Linked DNA regions of Homo sapiens: region 2 is linked to region 1. Evidence: fine-mapped expression QTL. A gene starts in region 1. The other region holds a variant in brackets. All regions are shown on one strand. Distances are between the middles of the regions.

Region 1 (2,912 bases):
TACAGGCGTCTGCCACCACACCCAGCTAATTTTTGTATTTTTTCAATGGAGGCAGGGTTTCACCATTTTGGCCAGTCTGGTCTTAAACTCCTGACCTCAAGTGATCCGCCCGCCTTGGCTTCCCAAAGTGCTGGGATTACAGGCGTGAGCCATCACGCGCAGCTGGGAAATCTTAAAGTATATGTATTTGTGGCCCAGATCTTAAAAATACTGATCCAGGGCCTGTCAACTTTCTGGGAATAAACACCTTGTAGCCTTTTTACTCATTTAAAATATATTTATATTCCCACAGGCAGCAAAATGCATAACCCACATATTAGCAACAATTCTAGAAACAGGAATACGAGAAGAAGCAGGGTAGCCTAGTGGTTAAAAGCAAGGGCCTTGCTGTCAGCTTGTCCTAGCATTGAATCCCATTTCCACCACGTACTTGCTCTGTGACCTTGGGCAAGTCACTTTACCCCTCAGAGTCTGCATTTTCTCATGGGCAAAATGAAAAGAATAATCCTAAATTCTAGGGTTGTTGTAGAGAAGTGATAACATATATAAAATGCTCATCACAATTCTGGCACATACAGCTTGAAAAAATGGTAGCAGTTGTTATTATTTGAGAGAAAAGCAACCCTAATGTGCAAAGAAATGAACAGTTTGAAAGCCTTCTGGCATATTCTCCATTTATTCCTTACAACAAACAAGAGTTTGAACTAGGAAAACAATAAGGATGGATACTTTATCCCTAAAGAGTTGGACCCCGAACAAAAAAAATCCCTACATTTTCAGTGACATTAGAATAAGAGAACTCAACACTTTGAAAATAAAGTCCCAGAGAGTACAGAGTAGAAAAGGTATTTCTATTTCTTAATTTCTTTCTCAGCACTAAATGTATCAGCTCCTCAAATTCATCTCTGGTAAAAAAAAAATAATAATAATAATAATAAATAAATAATGAATGGATAAATGAGTTTGAGGCTCTGAGAGGTGAAGTGACTTATTCAAGATGACACCGCTAGTAAGAACGAGATTTCTCTGGCACTTAGTTTCTCCAGCTGAAAAATCACTGCTCTGAATCAAGTCTAGGGCTCTCACCACCGAGCCTCTTTTGACTGAGCCCAACTTCGCCGGCGCGTCTGGACAGCCGGGTTCGAGCCGCAGGGGTTTGGGGCAGGGGTGCCAGGTGCGTGGCTCTGCGAGGGGATTAAAGCCCAGGTGCGGCCTCTGCCTCCAACTCAGGTCTCCCTGGGGCCGCCCCAGGCCCCACAAGGGCCAGGTCGGGTGAGCGCCCCCCAAGGGGCACCAGACCCCGCCAGGTCGGGGGCCCCCTCGCCAGGGCCGCGTGGCCTCCGCCCCGGACTTACAGAGAGCACCCACCCCGGTCTTCAAAAGGCCAGAGTCGTCCCGCCGCCTGGACCCCTCAGCCACCTCCCGGGCCTCCTTCCAGCGGCCGCCACCTTCTCCACCAGCTCCCTAGTTCTGGTTGCCACCCAAGCTCCGTCCCCATGGCAACCGCCACCGCCGGAAGCGACAGGCCCTAAAGCGACAGGGCAGGGCGGTGGTCACGTGCCAGGAAACGGTGACGAGCGTGCCCGACGTGCCTCCTGCCGGTCGCTGGCGGCATAGACTTTCCTCGCTTTTCTGTCCTTCCTCCGCTCGCACGATCCCACCTTTTCACATGGTCCCGTCCCCTAAGAAGCTGCAGCGGCCAATACTGCCAATTTTTACTTTCCGCAACCTTGGCAAGATGGGGTGGAGAAGTATGAACTCGGATACAATGCTCTTTTCCAAAAGCAAACTGAATTTCCAGGTCTCATGGATGCAGCACACAACCGTCCTGCCTGCCTCCTCACCGGGCACCGCGTGTTGCAGACAATTCCAGCTGGCTGGGGGCAGATATGACACAGGGTGCACCAGCTTGCGGTTCTCAGCACAAAGCGTTTCCGCAAAACCGGTCTGGCTATATCTATTAGGATCATTCCACGTCAAAGTGGCTCTCCACTAACATCTCATGGAAGACGGCAACAGGTGGCCACACGGGTTTCCACTGGGACCCCTGCAGGAAACCAGCCAGAGCCACTGAGGCAGAAGGCTCTCTGCTGCTGTCATTTTAGGAGAATGTGAATAATTCTCCCCGCCCACACTGCCATGCCCCAGTGATGGTAAATTGATTAATATGCATACATCTTAAAATAAAAAAGAAAGGATAAACTGGGCAAGCTGTGTTTATTATAGTCTGAGACTTTATAAAAGAGACTGGAAAATACGTGGAATTAGAACATGCAATTTAAACAGCAAACATTGGTAAACACAGCATGTCTGTGGCTACCAGAGGGGAATACGTATGGCTGTCAGGTCAAATAGAGTTTGAGGGAATTCGCCCAATAGGAAGGCTTTGGAATTGAGTGTGAGAACCTGTGGCTGGAAGCACACAGCAATACCAATCCCATCAAGGCAAGCTGGTATCTGTATCCAACCACAGCAAAACCAGTCCCAAGGAACACAGGGCTTGCCTGGCAGAACTGCCAAAACAGAAAGCGGTGTGCAAGAACTGGGGAAATGAACACTGATACCATGGAGAGGAAAAAATAATTCAAAGTATTGGCAGGAATCCCTGAGAACCATTTTACCATCTTAAAAGAGACAAAAAATAAAAGGGAGGAAGAATAAGCATTTTCAAGAGGTCTGATCTACTCGTTCCTATCCATACCTCAGCGGTTTACAAAATAGCGCTGATCTCAGGGCATAGCCAGGAGGTTCAATTATAAAAAGTCAAACTAGCAGTGGGCTGGGCGCAGTGGCTCACGCCTGTGATCCCAGCACTTTAGGAGGCCAAGGCAGGAGGACTGCTTGAGCCCAGGAGTTCGAGACCAACCTGGTCAACACAGGGAGACCCTGTCTCTACAAAAAATAAATTAGCT
Region 2 (2,912 bases), 70 kb before region 1:
GGGCCATTCCTTGTTTTTATAAGCAGGCTCCTGGTGGGGGCAGGTTTGCTTTTCTAATGGTTTCATGGACCAGTAGGACTGGGAGCACTCACCCTCTTCCCCACGCCCTCTTCCCAACGCACAATACCCTCTAGAACATTCTCAACTAATGGGGCACAGTGTCTTGTTCCCACTCATCATCTTCACTCATACCCTCCCCTGGTCACCCCCTGCATCTCCTCGCTGACCCGGGGCAGGGAGTAGTGGGCTGAGGAGGGGGCGTAAGGGCTGGGCAGCGTCACTGCATGGCCACATCTGGAGACCCCTGTGAGCGCCCCCTCTGCGATTCATGCAACACTGTGACCCCAACTGCTCCATACCTCCCTCCAGGAACTAGATCTGGATGGCGACTGCCTCTTTTTCCAGGAGTGGGGCATGCATGCACAGTTCTGCCCTCTGGACGCAGTCTCAGGTGACAGCAGCCAAGGCCTGGCCTGGTGCTCTTGCCCACTGTCTTCTACTCCATGTGAACAACACCCATTCACAGGGCCCTTTAGAGTGACTGTCACCCTGCCCTGCATCAGAGCCCAGGTCTCAAACACCTCCAGGGACTCTTCCCTTCCCAGTGAATGTTTTCAAAGGTCTGAAAGAGACAGTCCTAGCTGAATGACAAGTCTTGCACCTTGTACCAAACCCACAATCAAGGATTTGCTAATTCTGTGTCCACAGCTCTCTAAAATCCTGATCCTGCCTCATGCACCCTAAAGCCCCAGATGGTTCCTAGCTCAAGTGAAGAAGTGATGTGGGCCGGGCACCGTGGCTCACATCTGGGATCCCAGCACTTTGGGAGGCCAAGTTGGGTGGATCATTTGAGGTCAGGAGTTCAAGACCAGCCTGGCCAACATGGTGAAACCCCATCTCTACTAAAAATACAAAAATTAGCTGGGCGTGGGGGCGGGCACCTGTAGTCCCAGGTACTCGGGAGGCTGAGGTGGGAGAATCACTTGAACTTGGGAGGCAGAGGCTGCAGTGAGCCGAGATCGCGCCATTGCACTCCAGCCAGAGGGAGATTTCATCTCAAAAAAAAAAAAAAGAGAAAAAAAAGAAAAAAAAATCCAACAACAACAAAAAACTTGCACACGAATGTTCACAGCAGCCTTATCCATAATAGCCAAGAAAATGGGAAAACGTAAATGTCCATCTGTTCGTGAATGGATACATAAAATGTGGCATATCTACATGAACGAATAGAATGTTACTCAATCATAAAGAAAAGAATGAAGGACTGAGACAAGCTACAACCTGGATGAACCTGGAAAACATGATGCTGAGTGAGTGAAAGAAGCTGGACCCAAAAGACCACATATTTCATGACTCCATTTATATGAAATGCCAAGATAGGCCAATCCATAGAGACAGAAAGCACATCGGTGGTTGAAGGAGAAATGGGAAGTGAGTGCTCATGGGTCTGGGGTTTCTTTTTGGGATGATAAACATGTTCTAGGATTACGTGGTGGTGATGTCTGCAC[T/C]ACTCGGTGGACATTCTAAAAACCAATGAACTGCATCCTCTAAACAGGTGAATTACGTGGTATGTGGTATATCTCAATAAAGTTTTTTTTAAGAAAAGAAAATAAATAATATGGAGAAGCCATGGCAATGGCAAGTAACAACATTTCGATTCTAAGAACATTAATTTAATATTTTTGAAATATTTTTAAAAATATTTAAAAATATTTAAAATATTTTTAAAATATATCTTCCACCATCATTGTGATCTACCCTTTTATATCATAAAACCAGTCAAGAGTGAAACATGCTTGTTATGAAAAATTCTAACAATGGAGATATAAAGAAAAATAATAATAAAATGCCCTGAAATTCCCCGTCCTGCAGCAATAACCAGTGTTGGATGCCAGAATTTTTAGGGTTTTCTTCCTTCTTTGTACCAACTCATACATACGTAGGAACAGAACCTGGAGTTGGGGGTCAGCCAGCTTGGTTCAAACCCTGGCTGTGCCCTCGGTAGCTAAGTGACTATACAATCTTTCTTCTCTCTCTAGGCCTCACTTTCCCAGAATGGTATTATGCATTACTATTACCTGTATTCTTTTTTTTTTTTTTTTTTGAGACGGAGTCTCGCTTTTCTTGCCCAGGCTGGAGTGCAATGGTGCCATCTTAGCTCACTGCAACCTCCGCCTCCCGGGTTCAAGCGATTCTCCTGCCTCAGCCTCCCGAGTAGCTGGGATTACAGGTGTGCGCCACCATGCCTGGCTAATTTTTGTATTTTTAGTAGAGACAGGGCTTCACCATGTTGGCCAGGGTGGTCTCGAACTCCTGACCTCAGGTGATGCGCCCACCTCAGCCTCCCAAACTGCTGGGATTACGGGTATGAACCACCAGGCCTGGACTCTATCGCCTGCATTCTTTTTAATGGCTGCATAGTAATCCAAGATTTATTTCTTTAAATGCTTTACATGTGAAAAGCAGAAATAGTTTTGTCTTGCTCTGATCTTTCTGCAGGAAGCCCACCTCTCGCTGGGCAGGGGCCTGGCCACGGACTCTCTGTTGGCCAGGAAGGCCTCCCCTAGAACACTGGGCCACTTCTATTACCTTCAGGATGGAAATGCCTGCTGATATTTACGTTTCAGGGCAAGACCCAACATACTGAGGGCTTCTCTTCAAAGTGCAAATTTCCAAATTCCCTCGGGGTCTTTATCAGAACAGAAATTGTCCCTGTGCTTCTTGGCTCAAATTACCCCCCTCGTTATGGGTGAGGCTGAACCACTTGGCTACAGACCTCCATCCCAGCTGGGACCCTGCTTTAGCCATGAAGATTAGCACACAGGGCTTTGGGGGGATTTGCTTGTTTATCTTTCTCGTTTTTGTTCTGAATACAAAAGCAACACAAGCTGCATGTTTATAGTTAGGAGAAC

Evidence for each region. PIP is the estimated chance that this variant, and not a neighbour inherited with it, causes the effect.
Region 2: its variant is fine-mapped to the expression of CFAP251 in esophagus mucosa (GTEx, PIP 0.96).

Annotation. Positions count from the first base shown.
Region 1 is chr12:121,917,152-121,920,063 of GRCh38, reverse strand. It overlaps CFAP251 (cilia and flagella associated protein 251), which reads right to left and starts at 1,472. Exons shown (of 22, transcript NM_144668.6): 1 at 1,369-1,472. PSMD9 (proteasome 26S subunit, non-ATPase 9) reads right to left here. Exons shown (of 6, transcript NM_002813.7): 6 at 1,767-2,912. RefSeq lists a silencer at 1,194-1,343.
Region 2 is chr12:121,986,908-121,989,819 of GRCh38, reverse strand. The region is part of intron 19 of CFAP251 (cilia and flagella associated protein 251); the gene reads right to left. Among named protein-coding and RNA genes, the nearest start is that of BCL7A, 34 kb to the left of the region's middle. The variant T/C (reference allele first, on the strand shown) is at 1,509.